Regions from separate parts of the Homo sapiens genome. Here region 1 is linked to region 2. The links come from fine-mapping of genetic effects on gene expression. A gene starts in region 2. The other region holds a variant in brackets. All regions are shown on one strand. Distances are from middle to middle. Region 1 overlaps GFPT2 (glutamine-fructose-6-phosphate transaminase 2). Region 2 holds the start of MAPK9 (mitogen-activated protein kinase 9).

Region 1 (15,015 bases), 30 kb before region 2:
CTCACTCTGTTGCACAGGCTGGAGTGCAGTGGTGTGATCTTGGCTCACTGCAACCTCCACCTCCCAGGTTCAGGCAGTCCTCCTGCCTCAGCCTCCTGAGTTAGCTGAGACTACAGGCACGCACCACCACACCTGGCTAATTTTTGTACTTTTAGTAGAGACAGGGTTTCACTATGTTGACCAGGCTGGTCTCGAACTCCTGACTTTAAGTGATCCACCTGCCTTGGCCTCCCAAAATGCTGGGATTTACAGGCGTGAGCCACTGTGCCTGGCCTGTTTTTGTGATAGGTGATATCACAGCATGTCTGTATGTGGAACGGAATGGCCCAAAAGAGGGAGAGAGGGAGAGAGATTGGGGACATCCCAGAGGACAGGGCCCAGGGAGAAGAAGTCCCTGAGAAGGGAGCACACACTGGGCGTATTGTCCAAGGGGAGGCCCCTACACTGAGGAGGAGGTGGAGCAGACACAGGCCCATGCAGGGTGCGGGAGGACGAGAGGGGTCCGGGCCTCTCAGAGCCCATCCTGTCAGACAGCAGTGCCACCCAGTAGCTCCCCCAGGGCTGTGGCAGCCTGGACACTGGCCCAGAGTCCAGAACATCTGGCAGGCACCATCCTGTAGTGTAAAATACATCATTCTTGAGCAGGTGTTTTCAGAGTCTGATTTAAAAAGTAAGTCTACTGTTGAAGCCTTTTTGTCCTCTAACTCCCGTTTTTGGAGGTCCATCATTTAGAGGACGTGTTTATAAAAAACAGCCTATCCCACATTTAATGTGCTGGATAAGGTACAGTGAGCCAATTAGGTATTACAGCATGCTGTTTCTTCTTTTCCATTTTTATTTTGAAATTTCAGAAATACCTCTCTCATAATGACACTTTTAAACTTAAGACTTTTCCTACCTGGGACAGTACCGGGCTCTTTTTGGCAGAGAACGTGCAGTGTTTTTCCATTCAGTCCTATTTTATTGTTGACAAAAGCACCAGGGTCTGCCTGAAGCCCCCTGGTTTGGGGCAGTTTGAAAGCCCCAATGAGGCCTGGGGACGGTGACTCAGGTTCCTGGCCCTGTAGCTGAGTTGGCAACCTGGACCCGACACGCTGACCACCCGGGGCCTGGGGCTGCCCGTGGCTTCCACACTTGGAGGATTTCTTGTGGAAATTCAGATTTGCAGCTGGTTATATATAACTGAGCTCTGCTAGGGTTGCGGTAAGTTAGTACAGGATGGTCAGGACGTGGGGGAAGAATTTACACCAAGAATTTAAGTCAAAAAACCATCTGGCCTCTTGTGTTAGGAGAGCTGGATTCTAGTTCTGGCTTTGCACAAACCAACCAGCTGAGGCCCAGAGGGCAGGTGGCAGTCGTATCCATGGAAAGGATAATAGCAGTAACGGTCATGACAACCTGTGCTTCTCTTGGGTCTCCGGATGCCAGGCTCAGTGCATTAGCTTATCATCGTCACGGAAGCCCCGCCAGGTGGCGCTGTTCTCACTTCCTTCACCGATGAGGAGAACGAGGCGCCAAGAAGGCTAAAGGGAGAGCCCAGTGCAGGGGTGGAGCCAGGATTTGAACCCAGGCCCTACCGTGTGTTGAGCTAAAGTGCACTTCACAGGGGCTTGCTGAGTAGGTGCTGTCCCTGAGCAGGGCAGGGAAGCCTGGTCCCAGCTATCATTTCCTGTGACTCTCACTGCCCCGTCTACCCAGCTGGCACCCCTGCCGGGCTCCCTGTGGGCCTGGGCAAGCCGCACATCGCTCACCGTGGAATTCACATGTTCTGGTTTGTGGTACTTCCCGTGGCACCGTCTGTTTTGCTTTCCCTCGTGATGTCACCCCGGATGCGCTGTTCTGCACTCAGCTCCCCGAGGGACCCCAGGACCTCCCGCCATCAGGAGGGGCCCAGGGAGACGCACCTGGGCTGTGGCCAGGCTGCAGCAGCGGCTGCTGGAACGCGTTGACCCTCACTGTTTGTGTGTTTTCAGGAAGGTGCATTCGCGCTGGTTTTCAAGAGTGTCCACTACCCAGGAGAAGCCGTTGCCACACGGTGAGGCAAAACACACTGGCATTTCCCATAAGAAAGAACGAAAATAAAATCACTTAGCTGGAGGGAGACGGGAGAGGTAGGGCCTGTGGCACGCTGAAAGGTGCTCGTGGTGTCTAAAGAACAACTGTGGCTCAGCCCCGGGGACCGCGCCCCACCATCTCCATGGCTGGTGGTGCTACACTTCTGAATTAAAAAAAAAAAAAAAGAAACCAGAAAGTTGGATTTGTGTTTGAAATCTCCACAGATTTTTAGAGGTGGGCAACAAATTCCAGTTATAAATAAAATCGTACAGACAGGGCAGATCCAGGTTTTGTGGGGCTTGAAGCCTGTACAATGTGGGCCCCCCTTTAAGAAAAAGCAAAATTATGAACATGAAACTAGGGAGCAAAGTGAATATTGATTTGGATCCAGTACAGCAGAGGCCTTGAAGGCCCGGGGCTCAAGCTTCACCTTCACAAAGGAGCATGCCAGGAATCGGCTCAGAGAGCCTGCTTGCCCCAATGTGTCCCTCTGTTACGGTGGGCCCCCAGTGCTGCATGGATTTACAGAAGCAGGTTAAGTGCCATCCTGTTTATATTCACATAGGTTGATCATCCATCCAACCATGCAACTAATATTTACTGTGCACTTACTGTGTGCTGGGCCCTGGGGACTTAGTGACATCTGACCTGGTCCCTGCCTTGAAGGGCTGAACAGTTGTACAGGAGGGCAGAGAAGGGCAGAGGATAGTGATGCCCTGTGCCCGGCCCCAGCACAGGATATCACCTTACCTGGCAGGGGGGCAATGGCAGGTAGCCCCAGGCAGGCAGTGGGAAGAGGAACCAGCATGAGCAAAGGCAAGGGGCCCAGAGGGAGTGGGACCTCCCAGGATCCCCGTTGGCAAGGTGGGGGCATGGTGCAAGGGCATTGGTGGGACGGAGGCGTTCTAGGCCCAGTGTGTGTTTACTGACACCTGCTGTGTGCCAGGCATGGGAGACAGTGGTGAGCAAGGTGGTATGGACACTGCTCCAGGGCCTCAAAGGCTGTGGGGAGTGGAGAGGCGGACAGAGGCCGGCTCTAAATGGCCTCAGTGCCCTGTGGGCTGCGGGCTTCATCTGAAGCCCCAGGGGAGCCATCTGGAATGAACCTGTGGCCTGGGAGACGGCCGGAGAGGGTGAGGCTGTCTCTTCCAGACTGGCGTAGTATCTCAGCAGGAAACAACAGGAATTTATCATCATTTTTTTTAACCTTTTCTAAAACTGGAACTAATTTGCCATTTGGAATTTAATTCCTTCAATTCATAGAATTATAAAATACCAGTTGGTTCCTATCAAATTTAGAAGCCCTTTTTAAAATCCAATTTTATCATGATTTACTATTTTAAATGAACTCAGAAGAAGGCAGCGTGAAGAAGCAATAAAGCTTTATTTTTCTAAATTGCCTATAACTGAGGGCTCTATAACCTGCAGTACAATCTTCGGGTTGTCTTGGGAGAATTATATGTCTCAAGGTCTAGAGAAACCACAGAGCTCAACCTACAGCAATAAAATTTGGGGGAGTCATTTGCCAAGAAAATTAGATATCCACCTACTTTCTCACTGCCATTATTATAAACTATTTATGCTAGTTCCCCACTGGCCCCAGAACTATGTCTCAGATTTGCTTTACACAATAAATGATTAAAATATTCAAGGTGTTCATAGCACCTTCCTCAAAGCCCCAGACTTTGTCCCCCGCTTTGAGAAGCCATAAGTGGGGTCCAAACAGGCCAACGTGACTGGAAAACAAGGTCTGTTATTGTTGAAGAAAAATTTAGGAACTGCATTGAGTCAGGCTAACAGATTATGGATATATGTGGACTGGATTCAAGCCGATGAGCAAGCACTTCATTAGTTCATTGATCTAAGTTAGCAAGAAATCACCTAAGGTAAAATGTTACTGGATTGTATTCCAATTCATGTGTTTGAAACAGCTCTCTTAAATTGTCTTATTACAGTGTTCGTCGGTGTTTTCTTCTTATTAATAAATTAATGTGTAGAGGGGAAAGGCACACATCCTTTCGTAACTACTGCACTTTTACCTGCCTGGTTTTGAAGAACCGCAGGTTTAGAGCGCATGTGTTACCAGAGTGAGCCTCTTATTTCTGTGCACACCTATGGTAGATTTTATTTGCATGCTATAATTTATAAGAATGAGCAAAGGATTAGATTTTGGAATCAGGATATCATTTAAATCATGAGATCCTTTTATTTATTTATTTATTTATTTATTTAGAGATGGAGTCTCGCTTTGTCGCCCAAGCTGGAGTGCAGTGGCACGATCTCGGCTCATTGCAACCTCCGCCTCCCGGGTTCAAGTGATTCTCTTGTCTCAGCCTCCAGAGTAGCTGGGATTACAGGCACCCCCCACCATGCCCAGCTAATTTTTGTATTTTTAGTAGAGACAGGGTTCCGCCATGTTGGCCAGGCTGGTGTCAAACTCCTGATCTCGTGATCTGCGCGCTTCAGCCCCGCAAAGTGCTGGGATTACAGGCGTGAGCCACTGTGCGCCCAGCCAAATCATGAGATCTTCATCACGTCCACCACTAGAAGTTGTGAATCAGAGGAAATATCCTAAAGCTCTTTCCTAAAGATCCCCTGCTGAGGTGCTCAGAGAGCCGGGCTGCAGTGGCTGAGACAGTGACGCTGGGACAGGAGGCCTGAGTGAGGGCCCCTCACCTTGGCCAGCTGCAGACTCCCTGAGATTTTGCCTGTGACAGTTATTGTCCTCTTTATGATGAAGTCTACCTGGTGCGGGGTGAAGATTCTAAACTTCCATCCACGGGGTGTCACTTTGGCAGAGACAAAAAACCACCCAAGAAATCACCTTATGTCACCTACAAAGTAGAGAATATACAAAAGTCAGTCAGACTAGTGCCCACTAATGCTAGAGAACTGGGCTAGGGGAAGGGAAGGAACAACAGGGGGTCTTTGGGCAGATGGTGGGTGCAGAGCCCTATTGTTATAGGGATGCGCTGCCGTCGAGGCTGGGTGGAGACCTAGAGTGCCCCTGTGCCCCACCAGCGCCTCCTCTGCTGCCAAACGCTCAGCCTCCGCCATCTAACCTTGTGGGTTGGTCACATGTGGGGACTTGACTGGACTGGAGGAGGCCCGGCCTAGGAGGGTGGGAGTGAGACAGGTTACCAAGCTTTCTGGGCAGGTGGGTGATGCCAAGTCAGGGACCTGGGACTCAGGAGCTGGCCTTTCCATCCTGTGCTCCAGGCGTCCGTCCTGTGGGACCTAAACAGGATCCTCCACCACTGGGAAAGGGCTAGATTTGGGGATCCTACCTCAGATGCTGGGCAGACACCCAGCACTGGGCGTCAAAGGCAATGGGTAATGGGATGCCTCTTTCTCCCTACAGGAGAGGCAGCCCCCTGCTCATCGGAGTCCGGAGCAAATACAAGCTCTCCACAGAACAGATCCCTATCTTATACAGGACGTGTAAGTTTCTCAAGAAGTACCGGAACAGCACAGCTGCTGGTGTCGCAGGACTCGGCAGCTGCTCTGGCACAGTCAGCTCCCCTCTGAGGCAAGGAAACCCCACTCTGAGCCAGACCCAACAGGCGCACAGCTCCAGGTCTAAAAGGTTTTTGTGCAACTGAGACTTGGCTCCATTTTTTTTAAGCTTTTTATCATGGACATGAATTTATCATGATTTTGTATATTGTCAAACATACACAAAAGTGCCATTGTATAACGGCAACTGGGCTTTGATGTGAGTGCTTCTTTGGTTTGTTTTTGTTTGCATTCCTCTCACACTGTAGCCATTTAAATGCTTTTGCAGTGGTACTGTGCTATTGGGGGATCTTTTACACGATTTGGCTGACACAGCCAAAGCTAAAAATTGCAAATTTCTCCCACACATATTCAGAGGGGAAATTGGTTCCTTGCTGCATATTATGCAAACAAAACATCCCAGTGGGATTTGCAACCCATTCCTCCATTTGCTAGGCACTCTGGAGAATGTGAAGAATATCTGTAAGACACGGATGAAGAGGCTGGACAGCTCCGCCTGCCTGCATGCTGTGGGCGACAAGGCCGTGGAATTCTTCTTTGCTTCTGATGCAAGGTAACTGAGCCTTCTTCTCTTCGCTTCCTGGGATTACATAATCAAAGAATGCCTGTCTAAACACTGCCGGTTCTTATTCATCCTTCCATGTGAGCTATCGTGGCTCAGCAAGTCGCAGGGCCAAAGAAGAGTTCAGCCATCCCTGGGCCTGGGCCTGGAGTCCTTGTCCTAGGAGCACCTGCATGACTGTGGTAGGCAGCCCTGGTGGCCAAAGGCCAGATGCACTGGTGGGCACAGTGCTTCGAGCCTGCACAAAATGAATGGGTTAGTTGCCAATGTTGTAAAATTTGGAGATTTCACAGAGAAATCTGAAATCTCTAGCTTCTCTGGAAGAACTAGCAGATCGGGGCATGCTGTGCAGCCCTCTCTCAGGTGGCAGGTGTCTGGATCTGCTCAAAGGCTGCCCCCTTTAGATGAGACAACTGTGTCTAGACCTCAGTCCCTCCCATGCCCCTCCCTGCCTTTGCCTGGGGTGAGACCATTTGTGAAAGACAGAGCCAAGACACAGGGAGTTTTTCAATTGATTCTAAAGTCCATGCTCTCATCAATCCACTGAATAATGATTTTGAAATTTGAGAAATTCTGCTTTATACTCATTTCAGAAAAAAAAAAAGTTATACACACACTCACACACACACAGAGAGAGAGAGAGGGAGAGAGAGAACCAGAGCACTTTCCTGCCATTTGAAGTAGAAAACTGCTGTAATCACCTCTGGTACCTTCTTCAAAGACCCAAAGGCTTGGGCCTTTGTTATGTTTCCATTCTTGATGGGTTTTCTCTTTCCCGACCAGCCTCTAATAGGGCCGTGCTGTGAGGCAGGGAGGACACCAGGCCGGGTCTCCTGGGAAACGGGAGCGACAGGGAGGCGAGGCCTGATTAAACGCACAGCCAGCATCATACTTAACGCTGAGGTCAAGGCAGCGCTTCCCAAATGGTGCCCCTTAGAACACGCCGAGAATACCAACGAGACGCTGGTATTATTTCAGTGATTCTAAAACACGGAGAATTGTAGATTTTGGCATAGTACCATTAGAATTTGTTGAAGCTTTTATTTCTTAGAAGTTTGTCAAATAATTGTGATCTTAACGATCAATAGTAACTTATATTCAATGAAATATGATAGATGTTTCTTTTTTTATTTTTATTTATTTATTTATTTTGTCTCACTCTGTCGCCCAGACTGGAGTGCAGTGGTGTGATCTCGGCTCACTGCAAGCTCCGCCTCCTGGGTTCAAGTGATTCTCCTGCCTCAGCCTCTGAGTAGCTGGGACTACAGGTGCCCGCCACCACGCCCGGCTAATTTTTTGTATTTTTAGTAGAGATGGGGTTTCACTGTGTTAGCCAGGATTGTCTCCATCTCCTGACCTCATGATCCGCCCTCCTCAGCCTCCCAAAGTGCTGGGATTACAGGTGTGAGCCACCGCGCCCATCCAGATGTTTCTTTTTTT[T/A]TAAAAAAAAGGCATGAATGCCTGAAAGGAGAGGAAATAATTATTTGTAGGCAATACTATTACACATTTTTAAATCCAGCCAAAAGGCTGTTAGAACTGATAGTACTAGCAGCTGGGAGTAAAGGTGTGGAAATCCTATATCCTGGCCTTAGCCACTAAGCTGTATCTGGTTCAAGTGGGACCTTGTCCACCTTATTCTCAGGTGTCACCTCACGTGACCAGGCACGATGCAGTCAGCAAACGTTAGGTGAACCAAAAAAGCAATACTATTCACCACAGCTGGAAAAAAAAATGCTTTAGAGTAAATTTTAACAAAAATACTCTAGAACATATTTGGAGAAGTCTACAGAAATTTACCATGAGGAAGTAAGAGATTTGAATATAGGAAGAGATTCCACATTCCTCAGTAGGAAGGCTTACTATTCTTTTCTTTTTTTTTTTTTGAGACAGGGTCTCATTAAGTTGCCCAGGCTGTCCTCGAACTAACTCCTGGACTCAAGGGATCCTCCTGCCTCAGCTTCCAGAGTAGCTATTTTCAAAAATTAATGCACTCAACATTTAAAACTAATTTAATGATTACAAGTTATTTTTAAAAAATATTGACTCTACCCAAATTATTCTGTGAATTCTGTGCTGTAATTAAGACTGTCCAGGCCGGGCGTGGTGGCTCACGCCTGTCATCCCAGCACTTTGGGAGGCCGAGGCGGACAGATCATGAGATCAGGAGATCGAGACCATCCTGGCCAACACGGTGAAACCCGGTTTCTACTAAAAATACAAAAAAAAAATCAGCCGGGCGTGGTGGCGGAGGCCTGTAGTCCCAGCTACTCGGGAGGCTGAGGCAGGAGAATGGCGTGAACCCGGGAGGCGGAGCTTGCAGTGAGCCGAGATCGCGCCACTGCACTCCAGCCTGGGCAACAGAGCGAGACTCCGTCTCAAAACAAAACAAAACAAAACAAAACAAAACAAAACAAAACCCTCCATATTATTTTATTTGTTTATGCCTTTGGAACTTCAGGAAGTGATTCTGTCGCGTGTAGTGTAGAGATAAGAAAGACAACACATGCTGAGAAAGGAATGGCAGGTGGCCCTCCCAGATGTGAGCACACTGTCCAGCTTTTGGGCAACGGTGGCCAGTGTGTGCGGGGCACGGTATGAGAGCCTCACCAGGATCCCATGCGATAATCATGACAGACCTCTGGGGAAGGCACAGCTCTTTTCTGTTTACAGAGGCGGAACCTGAGACAGGAACTCCAGGGGGTTATGTATGTTGCCCACGGGCACAGGTCTGGCAAGTGACAGAGGCCCCGAGTCCACCTCAAGCCTAACTGGTGGGCCATTGGTTTTAATGACTAGATTACATGACTACCCATTTTGGAAATAAAATAATTATATTTAAACAAACATGTACATGCACACATAAATATAAACACACATGCGTCATGCATTGTTGGTTGGTTAATGCTACAATGGAAGCAGTGTTGATCTCTCGGAGACAGGATAGGGCCGTTTTTACTTCTTGTCACTCCATGTTTCTACTTTTTATACAAAAAAATATATTTCTATACAAAATTTTGTATAAAGCTCTGTATACTTTTATACAAAGCATACAAAGTTATTTGTACACTTTTATACAAAGCATACGAAGTTATTTGTACACTTTTATACAAAGCATACGAAGTTATTTGTACACTTTTATACAAAGCATACGAAGTTATTTGTACACTTTTATACAAAGCATACGAAGTTATTTGTATACTTTTATACAAAGTTTTGTTTAAAATATTTTTTCCAGTACAGTGGCTTGCCATCTTTCTTTCTCTTTCTTCCCTAGGATCTGGCTGGATATACGTCTTTTAGAGCCTTAGACCTTGATGGTTTCTCTCTTTACCTTTGCACCAGGAGTTTAAGTGTTCATTTTCAGGCAGTCACGTGTGGGTGTGGCTCTTGATAGAATGAGAGTGTTTTTTTTGAGACGGAGTCTTGCTCTGTCACCCAGGTTAGAGTGCAGTGGCACAATCTCAGCCCACTGCAGCCTCCGCCTCCTGGGTTCAAGTGATTCTCCTGCCTCCCAAGTAGCTGGGATTACAGGTGCCCGCCACCACACCTGGCTAATTTTTGTATTTTTAGTAGAGACGGGGTTTTGCCATGTTGGCCAGGCTGGTCTCAAACTCCTGACCTCAGGTGATCTTCCCGCCTTGGTCTCCCAAAGTGCTAGGATTACAGGTGTGAGCCAGGGCTCCCGGCCGAGAGTGTTTTCTCCAGTAGTCCTTCAAGCCCAACCTGATGGTTTATACCACAACTATATACCATTAATCACCTTTCTTTTTCATTTAGCAACTTTTCAAACTTAAAATGATTTTAAAAGATACTTTGTATTATGATCTCAAGGGAAAAAAATCATTATTCTTTTCCATACAGAGAAAGTTATAAAAATAAACACAATGGGCTGGGCACGGTGGCTCACACCTGTAATCCCAGCACTTTGGGAGGCCGAGGCGGGCGGATCACGAGGTCAGGAGATCGAGACCATCCTGGCTAACACGGTGAAACCCCGTCTCTCCTAAAAATACAAAAAAGTAGCCGGGCATGGTGTCGGGCACCTGTAGTCCCAGCTACTCGGGAGGCTGAGGCAGGAGAATGGCGTGAACCCGGGAGGCAGAGCTTGCAGTGAGTGGAGATCGCGCCACTGCACTCCAGCCTGGGCGACAGAGCGAGACTCTGTCTCAAAATAAATAAATAAATAAACACAATGACCCTATGTTTCTTTGGTAAGCATAGCTTGTAGACTACTTTTAGGGCTCCTTTGTGTATGTGTGTGTGTGTGTAAGAAACTAGGTCTTTTGTCCTGATGAGTTTCCCATTGTCTGGGTTTTGCTGAGTGCAACCCCTGGTGTCATTTACCATCTTCCTCTGTCCCCTGTGTTTCCTGTACGCTGGAGTTTACAAGTGTTAAAAGCTCGATCTTATTCAGGTTTGATTTTTTTTGGCAAGACTACATAGTTGGTGGTGTGTCCTTCCATCAGGAGGCGGGTGATGTCTCACCATCTCTCTTTTTGTGCTAAGAGCCATCAGGGGTTTGAGTGTTGCCAGCCTTATCCATCCATGATAAAGCTTCGTCCAGCTTTTTACCTTCTGGTTTCAACAGCCATGAATGGTCCTTGATTAGAGCTATTAATAATTAGGAGTTCATAAATTGATTCTTCTATTATTTCTTCATTACTAGCTGTATCACTTCTTAGAGAAACTTGCCTTCATAAAGTATGTGGTTGTTCTGAAAGACAGATTGTTTAGAAAGGCGAGATAAATGCTTTATTCTTTCCCTTCACGATTCAGAATAATGTGTTGGTTCTCGAGTATCTTCCAGAGGTGACATTGTTTGGATCCTGATTTGAAGAAACCGGTTATAAAAAGACAGCCGTGAGATTATTGGAGATATGTAAACATGCTGAATATTTGATGATATAAAGGAACAACTATTCATTTTAGATATGATTATGGTATTATAGTAGGTTAAAATAGTTTTAGAGCTCTATGGTAAAGTGTTTACAGAAGAAATGATATAATGTCTGGGACTGGCTTCAAAATAATTCCGTGGGGACAGGAGGGAAGAGTGGAGAAGAAAAGGAAGATTCACCTGCAAATCAATGTTTTTAGTGTGGTCTCTCTGTCCCTCCTAAAATGCCAACGATGTGGCCTCCACGCTTGGGAACCAGCAAGGGGCTGCTGCCTCGTAACTGCTCAGGGCAGGGCACTGATGATGCCTGTTTCCCTTGCCCCAGCGCTATCATAGAGCACACCAACCGGGTCATCTTCCTGGAGGACGATGACATCGCCGCAGTGGCTGATGGGAAACTCTCCATTCACCGGGTCAAGCGCTCGGCCAGTGATGACCCATCTCGAGCCATCCAGACCTTGCAGATGGAACTGCAGCAAATCATGAAAGGCAGGTGTCCTCCAGAGTCCACGTGCGGCAGCCTCGGGAGCCAGCGCGCCTGGTGGAGCTCCTGACACTCTGCCTGGTCCTAGTAGAGGCCACAGCCCTCCTGCCCTCTGTGGCCACCAGGGCGGGGCTGCAGGTAGCCTGTGGCTTGCACAGGTGAGGGGATGTGGGGAGGCTGGCCTGGCACCTCCAAGCGGGGGCTCCTGTGTGCAGCCAGCCGCCAGGTCTTTCCTACTGGAACTGAGCCCAGTGTGTCAGCTGCCTTCCTTCACCGACTCCGCGGGACACATGCCCACCCTCAGGCATCATTTCTCCTCTGGGTGGAAGTCTGCAGGTCTGCAGTAAATGGGGGGTGGGGGTACACTTTCTCCCTACAAGGAGAGCCTCTCTGTCTGCACCCATTTCTGTCCCCTTACAACCTCTACCCCACAGGGCAGCCTGAGCAAACGTCTAAGAACATGAATCAGCCCCTGTGATCATCCCGCTGCTCAAGGCCCTCCAATGGTTTCCTACTGTTCTTAGAATAAAATCCAAACTCCCTGCCACAGCCCACAAACCCCACACCCCAGTGGGGCCAAAGCCTGGCCCCACCACACTCAACCCTCTGTCCCACTGTGCCCCGCCACAGCCCCTGCATTCGCTGTTCTTCTCATAGGACTGGTTCCTTTTCATTGCCTCCAGCTCCCTTGAAATGTCACCCCCTCAGAGACTCCTTCTCTGCTCCTGTGTCTGCCATGGTCCCTCCCCAGCCCCTCCCCTATGGTGGCCACCCCTCATTCCCCTCACTTGCTTCATTTGCTCGTCGCACAAGTGCCAGGTCATGGGAGACAGGCCGGGAGCATGGGCGATGTTGGTGTCATGAGTGTGCGTATCCTAGAGAACACGGCCTGCCCTGCCTGTGGGTACCTCCAGAGCATCAGGTGCAGGGGCTTGAACACCCTGCAGCCCCATTGTCCCATCAGCACCATCCAATCCCACTCAAATCAGAGCCCTGGAAATGCCTGTGTGGCTGGAAAGGTTTTTTTTTTTTTTTTTTTGAGACGGAGTCTTGCTCTGTCGCCCAGGCTGGAGTGCTGTGGCGCGATCTCGGCTCACTGCAAGCTCCGCCTCCCGGGTTCACGCCATTCTCCTGCCTCAGCCTCCCAAGTAGCTGGGACTACAGGCGCCCGCCACTACGCCCGGCTAATTTTTTGTATTTTTAGTAGAGACGGGGTTTCACTGTTTTAGCCGGGATGGTCTCGATCTCCTGACTTCGTGATCCGCCCGCCTCGGCCTCCCAAAGTGCTGGGATTACAGGCGTGAGCCACTGCGCCCGGCCTGGAAAGGTTTTTATTACGGAAACCAGGAGGGTATTTATTAGAAGGAAAATTGCCTGTTTCTTTGGGCCTGCTTAGCTGTACTTTCCTAGCTGGATGGCTTTTTGGGAGTGAAGCACTTTACTTTCTTTTGGCCTTGCTAAGGGAGCATGGCCCAGAGGGATCAGCCAGGCCATTTGTTACTTGCATGCCTTGGGCAAATCCCTCCCTTTCTCAAGCTGCAGGGTCCAATATGTAAATTGGAGATAGTCCTGGTTCCTGACCTGCTTCCCTCTGATGGTAGTGAGTGTCAGGCAGGGTAATCCCTGGGGATGCCTTTGGGAATCTGCAGTAAGCTTTACAGGAGTTACTATCGCTGCTGCATAATGAAAAGCAGTGAAATATAATGAAATTAAAACTGACCAGACGTTTATTTGACCAGGTAACTTCAGTGCGTTTATGCAGAAGGAGATCTTCGAACAGCCAGAATCAGTTTTCAATACTATGAGAGGTCGGGTGAATTTTGAAACCAACACAGGTAATTCCTACACTCGGTGGGGAGCCTCCGCCCGAGCCTAGTCTCAGGGAATGCGGTGACTGTGTAGACTCAGCATTAACGCCTTGTCGTGTGCCCTGCAGTGCTCCTGGGTGGCTTGAAGGACCACTTGAAGGAGATTCGACGATGCCGACGGCTCATCGTGATTGGCTGTGGAACCAGCTACCACGCTGCCGTGGCTGTAAGTGTGACACATGTGCGTGGGGAAGTCGACGGCAGTCTAGGACCAGACACTGGCCTTCAGTTTTATCACTCATGTGGCCTTCTGAATTTGGCTAAGCCCTTGTACCCATTCCCATGAGCTAGCGTGAGAAATGACACGGAGCCCTTTTATCTTCGAGGTGGCCTGTGGGTGACCGAAGTCCCCTCGCCACCTGGACAGTGAGGTTCCGTGTCACAAACTGTCCCTAGAAGCCCAGCTGCCCCATGTCCCTGTCGTGCCTGTGACTGACTTTAGTCTCCATGCTTGCTTGTTGGCTTCAGACGCGGCAAGTTTTGGAGGAACTGACTGAGCTTCCTGTGATGGTTGAACTTGCTAGTGATTTTCTGGACAGGAACACACCTGTGTTCAGGGATGACGTTTGCTTTTTCATCAGCCAGTCAGGTAAGGGACACAGGCATTGTGGCCAGCCTTGCATCAGGTCAGCTCTGGGCTCTCTCCTCTTCTCCTTCATTCAGTTAAGTCCTCTGCATGGCTACCCTGTGCTGCGAACCCTCTCTTGCAGCGGTCATTTAACCCGTAGAGCCATGGATTACTGTCGCCATTGTACGGGGAGGGCAAGAGATGTCTAAGGCCATGCAGTCAGGGGGTGACAGCTGGGATTGGGCTGGAAATCCACGCACGTTAGTCTTTCCCCTGCCCCGTGGCTTCTCCCTCTTCTTGCCTATCCAAGACTTCAAGGACCACTTACCGAAGTGCTCATAAATGTTTGCTGATTTATGTTAATAGAAAAAGCATCTCCTTTAACATTTTGTTAGGTTGAGAGTCACGTGGAGGACCCAGTATGGGCTCTGTGCCCAAGTGTCCAAGCCGAGCTGCCTGTGGCATGCAGTGCCCATGCTGCCCAGCAGGGGGAGGTGTGGGGGAGACAGTGCTCCCTTTTAGGGCCAAGGAAGGTCTCCCAAGCTACATGCACCCCATCTGGTGCCATCCCAACACTGGGCTTGACATTTGCTCCAGCTGTCTCAGGGAGGTGATCCAGGGCCATAGGCTTGGAGTCTCCTTGAGCTCGTGGAAGATTTTTGAAATGTTTTAATTACGGATAATTCCAAGCCTTTATAAAAGTAGAATTTTCATATAATGAATATCCTAGCCTTATCCAGCCCATCTTGTGCCGGTCGGACACACTCATATTAACCCCTCGTCTCCATGGGGTTACTTTGAAGCCAATCCCGGGCATCATGATATTCATCCATATAAATACTTCAGGCTGCATGATTAAAATGACAAAAGAAAAACATATAACCGGCCGGGCGCGGTGGCTCACGCCTGTAATCCCAGCACTTTGGGAGGCTGAGGTGGGCGGATCACGAGGTCAGGAGATTGAGGCCATCCTGGCTCACACAGTGAAACCCCGTCTCTACTAAAAATATAAAACAATTAGCCGGGCGTGGTGGCGGGCGCCTGTAGTCCCGGCTACTCAGGAGG
Region 2 (15,015 bases):
TGGTTTCATTAATACAATCAGATGGAAAGATTGAAAGCCAGAGAGTTCTGAAGTTTTGTGAAGTCAGAACTTAGGCTTCCTACGTAAGTGCTGTCACACACAACCTGAATGATGTCTTCATGACAACGGGTGTGTGTAGCCCTAGTATCTCATAAACCCTGTCCAGGATTACCTATGGGCTACTCAGCAAATTTCCATCCTGTCCTATGCCCTCACCTGTATCATGGGCTGGAAACCTGGGAGCTACATTTCCAGTTATCCACCATCCTGTCCTATGCCCTCACCTGTATCACAGGGGCTGGAAACCTGGGAGCTACATTTCCAGTTATCCACCATCCTGTCCTATGCCCTCACCTGTATCACAGGGGCTGGAAACCTGGGAGCTACATTTCCAGTTATCCACCATTCTGTCCTATGCCCTCACCTGTATCACAGGGGCTGGAAAGCTGGGAGCTACATTTCTAGGTTATCCACCAGTGAGAGGCATTCATGGGAGACTTGGAAGATAGTTGAGTGGCAGAAATCATATTTTGTATTTATCTCTGGCAGAAGCAGATAGAAATGTTGCTTCAGCAAACGGGGTTCTGCTGTGGCCCTCAGGGGCTCCCCAAAACGCACCCACCTCAGCATGCCAGGCAGTGGTGACCATGAACAGAGGTCGCCTGTGGCTCCTCTAAAATCCCAACTCTGGAGAGCTGGCAGCAACCAGGTGCCACAGGGGCTTTTCCTGACTTCTGTCCTCCAGGCCCTGGGTCAGTCCCAGGGAAATGGCTAGAATAGTTTCTGTCCTACTAATCAATCCATGACCAATACAACTTCCAAGATTAGGAGACTACAAACTAGCCAGAACATTTTTCTCTGGACAAGACCTAGAAAGTGTATTTCATCCTTATGCCCAAGAGGCGACGGCCATTCTGACTTTTGTGCCAATTGTTCCCTTGCTTTTCTTTATAGTTTCACCTGTGTATCTATCCCCCAAATACACTGCCTAGTTCGAAAGTGGAGGGTGAGTGCATGCTGGCGGTGCAAGGAGAGGGCGGCACTGCCTCCACTAGACGGAGGTTCCAGGAGGTGAGCAGATCAGTCTCCAGGTCGTGGTCTGACCCCTGCTTCTCTGGGAACTGACAAGGCCCCTCCTGGGGAAGTCATGAGGAAGGTCTCGAGGAAGTCTTGGGCTCAGCACAGTCAGGCACCTGGTAGGGCCAAGGTGGGGACCACGCGCTGGACCTGCAGTGGAAATAGTCAGAGGGAGGGGGCTGACCTGTACGTCCTGCTTCTAAGCTCGCCACGGCCTGCCTCCAGCTCTCGGTGGGGGGAAAGCTGGAAACTTCTGTGAATGTTGTGCGTCCTCAGCAGAGGAGGGGAGCGCCCCTCGTCGGCACATGGCCAAGCCAAGTACCGCCAAGAACCTAGGCCAGGCTCTCCTGGGCATTTTGTCCCCGGGCTACAGATGGCCTGATGGAGGTGGGGTCTTGGTGAAGACAGTTCACCCCGTGGGTCACGCTGCTCAGTATGGCTCAGTCGCTCTCCACGTCTGGTGCAGAGCCATCACCTCAGGGTCACTTCTCGCCACCCTCCATGGGCCTCCCAGGCCATGTCTTCTGTGTTGGGTTCCTGTTTTTGTTTTTTTGTTTGTTTGCTTGTTTTTTGACAGAGTTTTGCTCTGTTGCTAGGCTGGAGTGCAGTGGCGTGATCTCAGCTGACTGCTACCTCTGCCTCCCGAGTTCAAGCAATTCTCCTGCCTCAGCCACCCAAGTAGCTGGGACTCTAGGCGTGCGCCACCACACCCAGCTAATTTTTGTATTTTTAGTAGAGACAAGGTTTCACCATGTTGGCCAGGATGGTCTCGATCTCTTGACCTCGTGATCCACCTGCCTCGGCCTCCCAAAGCGCTGGGATTACAGGCGTGAGCTGCCATACCGGCCTGGGCTCCTGTTTTCTGTATCTGTGTCTTCCTTCTTCTGAGTTTCCTTTTTTGTTCTGGTGAAGCCCATTCTTGAGAAAAGGTGCTTGAGAGGTGTCTTAAGTCAGTTCAGCCTGCTGTAACAGCCCTGGTGCCTTATAAAAATCCCACATTTCTTTCTCACAGTTCTCAACAGTGGGAAGTCCAAGATCAAGGCACCGGCAGATGTGGAGTCTTGGTGAGGGCCCATTTCCTGGTTTGTACAGAGCAGCCTTCTTGCTGTGTCCTCACATGGCAGAAGGGACAAGGGAGTTCTCTGGAGCCTCTTTGATAAGTGTACTAATCCCATTCATAAGGGCTCCACCCTCACACTCATCACCTCCCAAAGGCCTCACCTCCTAATAACATCACATGTGGCAGGGGTTAGGATTGCAACATATGAATTTGGGGAAACACAAATATTCAGGCCACAACAGAAGGCAAGTTTTTTGAGAATCTGCAGGTGTGGAAATGATTTTTTTATTTATACTTGATAGAGGGTTTAGCTAAACACACAATTCTAGGTCAGAAAAAGGTGTTCCTGCAGAATTTTAAAGGTAGTGCTTCATCGTCTTGTTCCCAGTGCTGCTATTGAGTCCAAAGTCTGATGTCTTTGTAGGTGACCTTTTGGTCTCTTTTTTGTTTCCTGTGTTCTGAAATACCACAAGTTGCCTAGAGCACATTTCATTTAGGGTTGATTGCATCTGGTAACTTTTGCCTTTCAGACTAGGAAATTTTCTTGAATTATTTTGTTGTGGATTTCTCTGTTTCTCTGTCTCTGGAGTGTCTATTATTCCCAGGGTGAAGCTGCTGGACTGGCCTCTAATTTCTTATCTTTTTTATCATTCATTTGTTGTCTTTTTGCCCTACTGAGAGATTTCAATTTTATCTCCCAACCTGCTACTAAGATTTTTCATTTCTGCCAACATGATTTAATTTTTCGAGGGTTTTTTTTTGCTCTGACTATATATATATATATATATATTTTTTTTTTTTTTTTTTTGAGATAGAGTCTCACTTCGTCACCAGGCTGGAATGCAGTGGCGTGATCTCGGCTCACTGCAAGCTCCACCTCCCGGGTTCACACCATTCTCCTGCCTCAGCCTCCTGAGTAGCTGGGACTATAGGTGCCCGCCACCACACCCGGCTAATTTTTTTTGGTATTTTTAGTAGAGATGGGGTTTCACCGTGTTAGCCAGGATGGCCTCGATCTCCTGACCTCGTGATCCGCCCACCTCGCCCTCCGAAAGTGCTGGGATTACAGGTGCGAGCCACTGTGCCCGGCCACAAACTTTTCTATTCTTCCCCATTTATTATTTCTATTAGAATGAACCATAGATATTTATTTTATATTTTGAGTCATGCCCAATACTATGTTAGTTTGTTGTTCCAATGGTTCCAGCAACAGCCACTGGGGGCTCTTTCAGTTGGCTCTTGTGTCTCTTTGACATAGCCCCATCTGTGTGTGTGTGTGTGTGTGTGTGTGTGGTAAGTACTTCCGTGTGTGTGTGTGGGGGGGTACTTCCGTGTGTGTACTTCCTTACGTGTGTGTTGTACTTCCTTGTGTGTGTGTGTGTGTGTGTGTGTGGTAAGTACTTCCGTGTGTGTGTGGGGGGGGGGGTAAGTACTTCCGTGTGTGTACTTTCTTACGTGTGTGTTGTACTTCCTTGTGTGTGTGTGTGTGTGTGTGTGTGTGTTGTAAGTACTTCCTTACCTGCACAACAATATTCTCCAGGCTCGTCTTGTCCATCCCCTGTCCCAGCCCTAGAATCAACCATTTCTCCAGGGATCCCTGGTTCCTTTTATGGCGAATGACATTAGAGAACAAGATCTGGGCTCTGGGTGTGTCAGCCACTGCTGAGATGTCATTGCTTCTAGGCCATCTCAGCTGACAGAGCAAGGCCATGTTGCATACACCTGTGCTGCATAATTTTTAAATGGCTGGTTCTTGTTTGAAGGATGCAATATTTTTTCATTCTCTCTGAAGCTAGCAGTAGTTTTATTTTTATTTTTTGAATTTTCCTTCTCCACAGAGTCTGTTTCTTTCAAGATGCAGTTTTTTGTCTTACTTTTCTTAGCCATATGACATGGAGCTGTCTGTTCAGATTCAAGGGGGGCTGACTGGAAGGTCTAAGGCATGGTAGGGCTGGTTGATGCAGGATTCACTGCTGGGAAATCTGGTGGGGGTGGGGGTGTCATAATGTTCATACCTCAGGTCTTCCCTTCAGGGCTGGTCAGACTTCTGGAGAACAGCTTGCTGGCTCCCTGCCTGAGGACAGTCCCAGCTGCTGGTGCTCTGGGGGATTCCCGGAGGAGGAGGGCTAAGGGCCACTGGGTTCAGCATTCAGTTATACAGCCCCCAAATAACCCTGTTTCCATACAGTGCCACACCCTCAGCTGCGCCCCAGCTCAGATGCCCTCATTCTAATCATCACCATGGAAGAAACTTCCAGACTTCTGCCTTTCCCAATTCTGCCCTTCCCTGCCATGTCCTCACATGAGCCTGTCTGCCCAGCATGGCTGACTAGTTCCAGAATGGAAGCCCTGTCTGGGGGACCATCAGAGTCCATTGTTGTGGGTTTTCAAACTCCATTTGGGCCTGCAGTGGCCTCCATGGCCCTAGAGTTTCCAGACCAGCTCTGCCCCTACCTCCCCTGGGTATGATGTTACAGGCACCTCCCAGTAAACGTCCCCATTGGTTTAAGTGCAGTTTAGTTTTCTACAACACACAGCTGGGACAGCCCCGACTTACACCCTCTAGCACATCTCTGGGTCCTTGTAGGGGAGAAGGGAAGATGTGGGTTAGTGCAATGGGGGGAGGGCAGGCAAAGTGTTGAGGGGACAGAGGCAGTCAGCATAAGGACCTACACCATCCCTGCTGCATGGGCCGCACCCAGCTCTTCCTGCTTCTGTCCTTCTCCATGCCACTTCCTACAGAACCAAGGCAGACAGAAGTGAATCCCTTGCCCAGAGGAGCACAGCTGACAAGAGTCGGATTGGAATCCAGGCCAGTCAAGGGTGGGGGATATCAGGATCACAGAAACCCGTTGGCACTGTGGCTGCATACACAGCTGGCCTCCGGACAGGTCCCCAATGCCCCAGGCACCCCTAGCTCCTCCACCCCGCTGTGCTCTTGTCTTAGTCTGTTTCTTATTCTGTTGCTTATAACAGAATACCTGAAACTGGGTAATTTACTTTAAAAAAGAATTTATTTGTTACAGCCCTGGGGGCTGAGAAGTCCAAGGTTGAGGGGCTGCACCTGGTGAGGGCCTTCTTGCTGCTGGGGACTCTGCAGAGTCCTGAGGGTGGCGCAGGTGTCACATGGCCAGGGGGCGGAGCATATTCACAGGCCAGCTCAGGTCTTCCTTCCTCTTCTAATGAAGTCACCAGTCCCACTCCGGTGATAACCCTTTAATCCATGAATCCATCGACAGGTTAATCCCAACCACGCTTAGAGGCCCCACCTCTCAGTACTGCCACATTGGAGATTAAGTTTGAACATGAGTTTCATTGAGGATAAACATCCAAAACAGCTCATCCCAAATCTAAATGTTTCTTAAATCAACTAATCAATTAAAAAAAGAAAACCTCTCTGGGCTGAACAAGGCGTATCAGTGAGCTAAAGCCAGCCTACATGCCTGGCAGTGCCAATCTACCTCAAGGTCCTCAGAACTCTCCAGTCCCCTCACCTTTCCCTAAGACCAGGTGACTTGTGGCTCCCTGAACACAGCAAGCAGGTCCTCACATCTGAGCATGTGGGCCTGAGCGCCCTTTCTGCCTAAGTCACAGGCCCAACACATCCTGCTCGGCAGCCTCAGCAACAACTTCCTCCTGCCCAGAAGGCCTTCCTCAATTGCTTCTCCCCACCATAGGCCGGATCAGGTGAGACGTGCTCACGTGTCACACCTGGTTCACGTATGTCGTGGCAGGATCTTTTCACTTGGAGGGTTCAACCAGGATTCTTGGTGCTGTTCCAAGGCCCCCCTCCCCACCCTGTCACCTCAGCTTTGTGTCCATAAATGTTCACTGTATTTCATAAACCAGAAAAAAAGCAGTGTCTCTGCAATAAAAAGAACTCTTACAGAAAACTTAGTGTGAGATATGTATAGCTGTGTACATATGTACACTGATTTTTGGTTACTCACTTGACATGATGTGAGTGCTATGAAGTTAGGCCTGGAGTGCTGGGAACTGGTGTCCCCTCTGTTTTTTTGTTTTTATTTTTTTGAGATGCAGTTTTTGCTCTGTTGCCCAGGCTGGAGTGCAGTGGAGCAATCTCGGCTCACTGCAACCTCTGCCTCGTGGATTCAAGTTATTCTCCTGCCTTGGTTTCCTGAATAGCTGGAATTACAAGCACCCATCACCACGCCCAGCTAATGTTTGTATTTCTAATAGAGATGACGTTTCACCATGTTGGCCAGGCTGGTCTCGAACTCCTGGCCTCAGGTGATCCACTCACCTCGGCGTCCCAAAGTACTGGGATTACAGGTGTGAGCCACCGCACCGCCTTCCTAATGAGAAGCACCCATCAGTGCTCCTTGGTGGAACCTCAGATCTGACAGCTAGGCTTTTACTCTTTTCCCATAATCCTCGATCCTGACAATTTCTGGTTTCCTGTTCTCTCTCATGCACTTGAGGCAGGTGGCAGGTGAGTCTGAGGTAGCGACAGGTGTGGGCCCTCCTCAATGCAGGCCACACTGTGACGTAGAATTTCAAGCAGCGATGAGCCATGCTCAAATTTAGAAAACTCCCTCTGGTGGCCAAGGGGGACACCATGCTGGATCCGTTCCTCTACCCCACCCCTCCTCTGAGGCTCTGGTGCCTCCAAGCGGCCTGGCCCAGACCTCAGTGCCCTTGGAACCTGGGTCACAGGCTAGCTGCCCTCCCCAAATTCTGCAACCACCCTTCACGCCACCCAGCCCCTTACCCTCCCCATCTGCAGAGTCCTGTTCCTTCTCCCCACTCTGGCCCTGGCCACTCTGTGGATCCTGGTATTGTGTTACTGCTGTTCTACACCACACTCACCATTTGTCAACCATTGTTCCCACTCTTCTAGTCCCCAAAGGCCGGCTCTCCACGGTTTTCCCCATGTGCCCAGCCTCAGTGCCTCTCTTCCTGCTTCACTTTTCAACGTAGATCTGGCAACATCCCAAGCCCCGGCCTCTCCCATCCTGTACGACCCCCAGGCCGCTGGTACCTGATCCAGCCTCAAAAGCAGCTCAGAGTCAACGGGTCCCAGTCCCTAGGGGGCTCTGAGCAAGAGACTCCTCGCCCCGCCCCCCACTCCTCTCAGAGGCTTGACTGAGCACCTCCCTTTTTTTTTTTTTTTTTTTTTTTTTTTTTTTTTTTTTTTTTGAGAGAGTCTCACTCTGTCACCCAGGCTGGAGTGCAATGGCGCAATCCCGGCTCACTGCAACCTCCGCCTCCCAGGTTTAAGTGATTCTCCTGCCTCAGCCTCCCGAGTAGCTGGGATTACAGGCGCCCGCCACCACGCCCAGCTCATTGCTTCGTATTTTTAATAGAGACGGGGTTTCACCAGGTTAGCCAGGCTGGTCTCGAACTCCTCACCTCAGGTAGTCCACCCGCCACGACCTCCCAAAGTTCTAGGATTACAGGCGTGAGCCACCGCGCCCTGCCGCACCTCCTAATTTTTAGATGTTGTCAACTAAGTGATCCCGCCACCAAGCGCAGTCTCCTCCTGCGTCACCGACCCACCGGGTCACCTGTCTACACACCGCCATCTCTTCGCACCCCCTCCCCCTCTTCGACCCGGCTTCTGGCCTCACCCACACCCCCATAGACCCGTTCCTCCGGCGCCGCAGCGAGCAACCGAGTGCGAGGCCCGCCCCGCCTACCGGGCCCTAGCACGCCGGGCTCCCGGACGCCAGGCCGGCCTCCCCCCGCGATCGCCCCGGGCTCTCCCCGAAACGGGCGGGCTCCCGTGCCGCTCCAGTCGCCTCACCGCCACAAGCCTGCACCTGCAGCCCGAGGCCCGGCTCCCCGCGGACCCCGCGGTGTGAGCCCCGCGCGCCTCCAGCCCGGTTCCCGGTCCTCCGGGCCACCCTCTCCACCGAGCTGCGCCCCCCTCGCAGGGAGAGCGGGCTCAGCCGGTGGGCCGCGCAATGCCTGCGTCTCCAGCTCACCGCGTGCACTGCGCGCACCCGAGCGCCATGGCCACTCGGCCCGCGCCACTGAAAGGCCCGGGGGCGAAGAACCCGCGGAACCCCGGCCCAGGACCTCGGGCGCCCGACCCGGCCCCCGACCCCGCCCGCGCCACCCTCCATCGGCCCGCCCCCCAGGCGCCATTGGCCGCGCCTGCTCCGCTCTCCGCGCGCTGATTGGTCGGCGCGAGGGTCTGTCAGACCGGGCGCCGCGGCGGCGGCAGCGGCGGAGAAGGGAGCGGGACCGGAAGGGTCGCAGCGCCCCGGCGCCCCTCACACCCACTGCGGCGGCGGCGGCGGCGGCGGCGGCGGGGCGGAGCGGAGCGGGGCGGGCCGGCGGCGGAGCCGGGGCCGCGGAGCCAGGAGTGACTAGCACGCAGCGCCGCCAGTCCGCCCGCCCGCCCTCTCCCCGTGGCGCGGCGGCGGGGAGGCGAGGTGAGCCCGGCGGGCGGGCTAGGCCTGGCGGCGGCTGCTCGGGCCGGGCCCGCGGGGAGGGGCGGTGAGGGAACCGCGCGGCCGGGGGCTTCGGGGCGGGCCGGGGGCTGCGGGGCCCTGGCAGCCGCAGCCGTCGCCCCTGTGCTGGGGGATGCCGCAGGCGCCCCCTTCCGCCCGGCTGTCAGCAGCCCCGGGCTGCGGGCCTGCTCACCGGCCTGGCCCGGCCGACCTGCCCGTGGGGTCTGCGGGCGCCATCCCTCCCGGAGGTGGGGCAGACAGCTGCACTCCTGCGCCGGGTGCCCAGGGGCCCGGGGTCGCGTCCCCGCGACCTTGGCCAAGGCACTGACCCTCGCTCTGCCGCGGTTTTGCCTTCGGGAAGGTGGGGAAATGTCTCTTCTGGACAGGGTTGTTGTCAGGCTGTGTGAATGTATGCAGACGCCTGGGCAGGACCCCGGTGTGCATCTGTGGAAGACTGGGCAGGGTGCTGGCCCGTGCTGGTGTGAGTGGTGTAGGAACCCCCTCCCCACCCGCCCAGCCTCCCGCCTCCCCGCGCACTCCTCTCTTGCCTTGTCATTGCACACTCGGTGTCCAGCAGTGCCAGAGGGGACCCAGCCCGAATCCCTTACCACCGCGCCCCTCCCCCAGAAGACTGCTGCCCCGTCCCACTCATCTCGCCCGCCTTGAACATGCCAGCCCGCATTTGCCCCAGGACCTTTGCATTTGCTGTTTCCCCGTCTTTGGAGTTGTCTCCGTGATCTTGGCACAAGTAGCTCTTTCTGCTCCTTCCTCTGGTCAGATGTCTCGTTTTGGGTGAGGCCCTCCTCGACCACCCTCTTTCTTCCCTTAGTCATGCTATTTCATTATTTAAAAAATTTCCTTCCTAGCTCTCATCTGGTTTGAAACTATTCTATTTATTTGCCTGCTTATTTTCTGTCTCCCCGACTAGGATGTAACTTTGTGAAAACAGGTAGCTGTCTGATTTGTCCACTGCTTTATCCCCAGTGCTTAGAAAGCACACAGGAAGTATTCAGTAGTATCAGCTCAATGAATGAATGAATGATCAAAGAAATGGCCCAGCCTGCCTGTTGTCTCTGCTTTATCTGTTCATTTAGTGACTTCTGATTAGCGTGTGAAACTTGTAAGCAGATGGAAGCTTGTTCTATTTTGTGAAACATTTTGGTGTCCTTGACCCCTTTAATTGCTAACTGTTGGAACAAGCTGTGATATAAAATCTCACATTTTTATAATAGTTTAGCTGTAGCTTTCTTCCACACATACAAGAGACATTTACTGAATTCTGCATTATCTAGGTCATGCTTTCTGCTAGACCCTACGGACACAAGGCAGATAGCAACGGGGTCCCTTTCCCGAGAGAGCCCAGGAGCCCAGTAGAGAAGGCAGGCATGCAGACACTTAGTTCCAGGACTGTACAACCCTTGCTATAGGGGAGGGGCTATGCCATGGAAATGTGGAGGAGGTGACAGGTGGTGCTGGGGGGCCTTGAGGGTGATAAGAAATTTGCTAGGCAGGGAGAGGCACAGAGGTGTGAAGGAGCAGGGCCAAGGAAGGACCGTAGGCCACTGTGGAGTTGAGAATCAGTCTGGAGGGCCAGGTGTAAGGACACAGAGTCGTGGGGACCCTAAAGAACAGGAACCTTACCCAGCAGTTTTCTAGAAGAAGGTGGAATTTGGCTGGGTGCCATGGCTCACGCCAGTAATTTCAAGACACTTTGGGAGGCTGATGTGGGAGGATCACTTCAGGCCAGGAGTTCAAGACCAGCCTGGGCAACGTAGCGAGATCTGTCTCTACAAAAAATTTTAAGAAATTAGCTAGGTGTGGTGGCATCCACCTGTAGTCCTAGCTGCTTGGGAGGCTGAGGTGGAAGGATCCCATGAGCCCAGGATTTGGAGCCTGCAGTGAGCTATGATCACACCACTGTGCTCCAGCCTGGGTGACAGAGCAAGACCCTGTCTCTAAAAAGGAAGGCAGCACTCCACATTTGTTCTGATTTTTAAATGTTGGCAATAGCTAATTAAATTTTTTTTTAATGCTGTGAGCCAAGCCAAATACAGATTCATTCAGCTTGGTTGCAGGATCGTCATCCTCCAGGACTGGCTGTGTGGGAGGGAGGAGCTGTGAGGAGAGCAGGAAAGGTAGCCTAAGGCCAGGGGAGCCAGGCCCTGTTTGCCCAGGTGCCAGCCCAGATACTCATTTGATTGTAACTGGAGCCCTGTGGAAACGGAAGCTCAGGAGTCTAAGTAGTCTGTTTCTTAGCAAGCAGCTGGTGAGTGGAGTTCGAACCCAGATCACTTCCCAGATAAGGATTCTTTCCTGGGTCCCTCAGCTCTGAGTATTCTCTTTTGGCTTTTAACTTGTTCTGGAAGAATGACCACCAATCTATTTAATGTTTTCCTCCATTTAACTTTTTTTTTTCTTCAAAAGGATCCTGCAGAGTTAAAAACAATACTATTTTTGCATAGACTTCTCTTTTGACAGCTTTGATTTTCCTGGCAATTTAATTTTCAGGGTGCCAGGACTTTAATTTGTTCACAGATTAAAATCTGTTTATTTGGTCCCGTAAATAAACAACAGAGGGGATACTTGAATGTGTCTAAGATAAAATATTCTTAATTTTCTGGATAAAGAAAAGGACCAGACAAACCAGTTAATAGCGAGTAAACCAGTTGTTTTCATGAGGCATAAGATAAAACAGAGACCAGATTTTTTTTCTTCTTGAGACTATTGATTTGCCAATAGGGCAACTATTTTTGGTCTACATACATACAGTAGTTACACCTCACACTTGGTTAGGAAGGTGCCATTTTTACATAATTTTCCTTCAGAATAATTAATTCCTGATACTTTGTACTTGATTGTATGAACCAGTTTCAACATCATTCTTTTTATTTTAACTTTTATTATGGGAACTTTCAAACATATACAAAATAAACAGAATAGTGTCCTGCTTTAACAGTTATTAACTCCTGACCAATCTTGTTTCATCTCTAATGGTATCCACTTGCACCCTTACCACCCATAATTATTTTCAAGCAAATCCTAAATATCATGTCATTTCATTCATTATTTTTTGGGATACTAATTACACAGTGGGTGCCCAGTAAATGTTTGGTAAAGACAAAGCTAAATGGGAGAATAAATGTGGTAGGGTAGCTCGGAGCAGTGGGTAAGATCAGGACTTTGAGTCAGACTCCCAGTGGGTCTGCTGCTTATCTGGGTGATGTGCAGAAGCGATTGCACTCATCTGTAAAACATACGGGCACAACCTCAGGGTGCTCAGGAGGTGTACAGTAGTTATACTTCACACTTCGGTAGGTCTCTAAAGGTACTGACTCTTTTAAAGTTGAAAAAGTAATAATTGCTTAATATCATCAAATAACTAGTCAATATTCAAATTTCCAGCTGCCCCATGAATTTTAGGTTTCCTTAATAGTTTGAAAGTAGAGCAAGAGAAGGCCATACGTTGTTGATTGGATGATACGTCTTTTAAGTTTCTCTTAATCCATAGATCCCCCTCCTATTTCTTTGTTTTCTTGGTAGTTTATTTGTTGAAGCAATCGAGTTGTTCCTTAGCATTTCCATAGTTGGTATTTGATTGATTGCATCTCTGCAGTGTAATTGAATGTGTTTCTCTGTAATCTCTGTAAGTTAGTAATTGGATCTAGACGAGGCTTCGTCAGATTTAGGGTGCATTCCTGCATCAAGATGCCTTCCTAAGTGGGCTGTGCACTTCTTATCTAGAGGTACCCTGAGGCTCTCTGCTCGTCCGTGTTGCAGATGAGTGCAATCGCTTGCTGCACATCACCCAGATAAATAGCAGACCCACTGGGAGTCTGAAGTCAAAGTCCCGATCTTAACCACTGCTCCCAGCTGCCCTACCGCATTTTTTCTCCCATTTAGCTTTGTCTTTAACAAACATTTTTTGGGCACCCACTGTGTAATCAGTAGAGGATTGAGAAATAAATCAGACACATTTTCTGCCCTTACAGAGTAGAAGTGTAAGTAGACTCGGAATGCAATCTAAAGCGAATACTGGGAGGGTGGCAAAAATGGGGGCATGCCCAGCATGGTTTGAAGGGAAAGGCTGGAGGAGGAAACATGTAAGAGAAGCAAGTGCTTGAACTAGATTTTTGAAGGAGGGTGAATGTTGACCAGCAGGTCAAAAAGGGGAGGGAAGTCATTTCAAGCAGATGGAACAGCTTAGGCAGAGGCCTGAAGGTGTGCAGTAGCTGGGTGTGTCCGCTGATCCCAGGTGGTTTGATGTTGCCTAAGATTGGGCCAGAGGACTGCCATCTCCTGTGCTGTGCTAGGGAACTGAATCTTATTCTCCAGGCAGTCAGTCACTGTTGAAGGAGTTCAAATGGGAGAATGGTGTGATCACTGCACACTTTCAACAAATCTCTCTTTTTTCTTTCCATATTTTGAAATAATTATAGATTCACAGGAAGTTGCACAAATGGCACAGAGAGGTCCCAGTACCCTTCCCCCAGCTTTCTCCCACGGTTACATATTTACACAACTGTAGTAAAATGTCTAAACCAGGACATTGGGCATCGGAGCAAGGTGTATAGAGTTCATTGTCATTTTTTATCGTGTGAAAATTCCTATAACCACTACCACAATCAAGATTCAAAACTATGTCATCATCCCAGATATCTCCTTGTCCCACCCCCTTACAGCCACAGCAGCCCCTTTTCCCCACCATTCATAACTGCTGGCAAGTACTAATCTAGTCTGCATCTCTATACTTTTGTCTTTTCAGGAATGTTATATGCATGGAGTTATACAGGATGTGACTTTTTGAGATTGGCTTTTTTCGTTGACTATCCTGCCCCTGAGATCCACCCAAGTTGTGGTATGTTTCAGCAGTTGCTGAGTGGTATTCCATGGTATGGGTATACAGCAGTTAGTTTAACCATTTACCCATTGAAGGACAGGTTTGGGTTGTTTCTAGTTTGGCACTATTAAAAATAAAGCTGCTGTGAACATTTGTGTACATATTCTCACGTGGAGTGATTTCTCTTTCTAAAGTGGCATGTGTGCAGTGGTTCGGAAGTCACAGAAATGGTGGCTGGGAGAATGCTTCTGCTGTCGCTGGTCCAAGGAGCCACGAGAAGCCCTTACCCAGGGCCCTGGGAGTGGGGGATTGAGAGGGAAATAGGCAGGCCTGGGTGCCTGGAAGTGGGGCTGGTGACGGAGATCCTTGCAGGGTCCTATGGATCCAACAGTGGGTGAAGTGATAACCAAATGCTAGTTGTTCTGTATTGTGGTATATACTGTGGCTTAAGAACTACAGAGGATGGCCCTGAGAGCTGCAAGGTTCTTGATTATCAAAGAAAGATTACGTTGTTATACCAAGCTATTCTTCATAAGAATTACAGTAGGAGGCCAGGCGCGGTGGCTCACGCCTGTAATCCCAGCACTTTGGGAGGCTGAGGCGGGCGGATCATAAGGTCAGGAGATCGAGACCATCCTGGCTAACACAGTGAAACCCCATCTCTACTAAAAATACAAAAATTAGCTGGGTGTGCTGGCGGGCGCCTGTAGTCCCAGCTACTTGGGAGGCTGAGGCAGGAGAATGGCGTGAACCTGGGAGGCGGAGCTTGCAGTGAGCCGAGATCATGCCACTGCACTCCAGCCTGGGCGACAGAGCGAGACTCCGTCTCAAAAAAAAAAAAAAAGAAAAGAAAGAATAAAGAATTACAGTAGGAAAATAGAACTTTTTAAATTTTTACTATTTTTTTTTTTTTGAGACGGAGTCTCGCTCTGTCGCCCAGGCTGGAGTGCAATGGTGTGATCTTGGCTCACTGCAAGCTCCGCCTCCCAGGTTCACGCCATTCTCCTGCCTCAGCCTCCCTAGTAGCTGGGACTACAGGCGCCCGCCACCACACCCGGCTAATTTTTTGTATTTTTTTAGTAGAGACGGAGTTTCACCATGTTAGCCAGGATGGTCTCCGTCTCCTGACCTCGTGATCCACACGCCACAGCCTCCCAAAGTGCTGGGATTACAGGTGTGAGCCACCGCACCCGGCCAGATTTTTACTATTATTATTATTATTATTGTTTAATATAGAGTTGAAGCCTCACCATGTTGCCCAGGCTGGTCTGGAACTCTTGGGCTTAAGTGATCCTCCCACCTTCGGCCTCCCACAGTGCTGGGATTACAAGTGTGAGCCATCTTGCCCAGCTGGAAAACAGAACAATTTAATGAAAAAAATGTCGGCAGCAAGCATTGAGACAGAGGGTGATTGTGAGAATCTGCTTTTAATCACAATAGTTAGTTGATTTAAATATCGCATGTCCTGGGTACTCTGAAGCTTTAGTGTGATGAAAGGTTCACTTGAGTCTGTGGATCACTGAATCGTTGTCATCGTTAGAGGAAAAAGTGTTTTGGTAGGTTTTGGTAGGGGGAGTCAGCAAGGTGAAATGTGCAGGACTGTGTGCTGGTCCTGGCCAGCC

Evidence for each region.
Region 1: its variant is fine-mapped to the expression of MAPK9 in whole blood (TOPMed, PIP above 0.99).

What each region holds. Positions count from the first base shown.
Region 1 is chr5:180,315,297-180,330,311 of GRCh38, reverse strand. GFPT2 (glutamine-fructose-6-phosphate transaminase 2) reads left to right here. Exons shown (of 19, transcript NM_005110.4): 7 at 1,974-2,035; 8 at 5,417-5,496; 9 at 6,007-6,124; 10 at 11,356-11,519; 11 at 13,254-13,349; 12 at 13,451-13,548; 13 at 13,851-13,971. Among named protein-coding and RNA genes, the nearest start is that of GFPT2, 31 kb to the left of the region's middle. RefSeq lists enhancers at 1-473, 474-1,463, 6,498-7,183. The variant T/A (reference allele first, on the strand shown) is at 7,574.
Region 2 is chr5:180,285,371-180,300,385 of GRCh38, reverse strand. MAPK9 (mitogen-activated protein kinase 9) reads left to right here and starts at 8,303. Exons shown (of 12, transcript NM_002752.5): 1 at 8,303-8,538. It overlaps LOC124901151 (a long non-coding RNA gene), which reads right to left and starts at 8,154. Exons shown (of 2, transcript XR_007059085.1): 1 at 8,086-8,154; 2 at 5,133-5,415. RefSeq lists enhancers at 841-1,341, 7,183-7,825 and silencers at 7,748-8,087, 8,098-8,467, 8,598-8,787.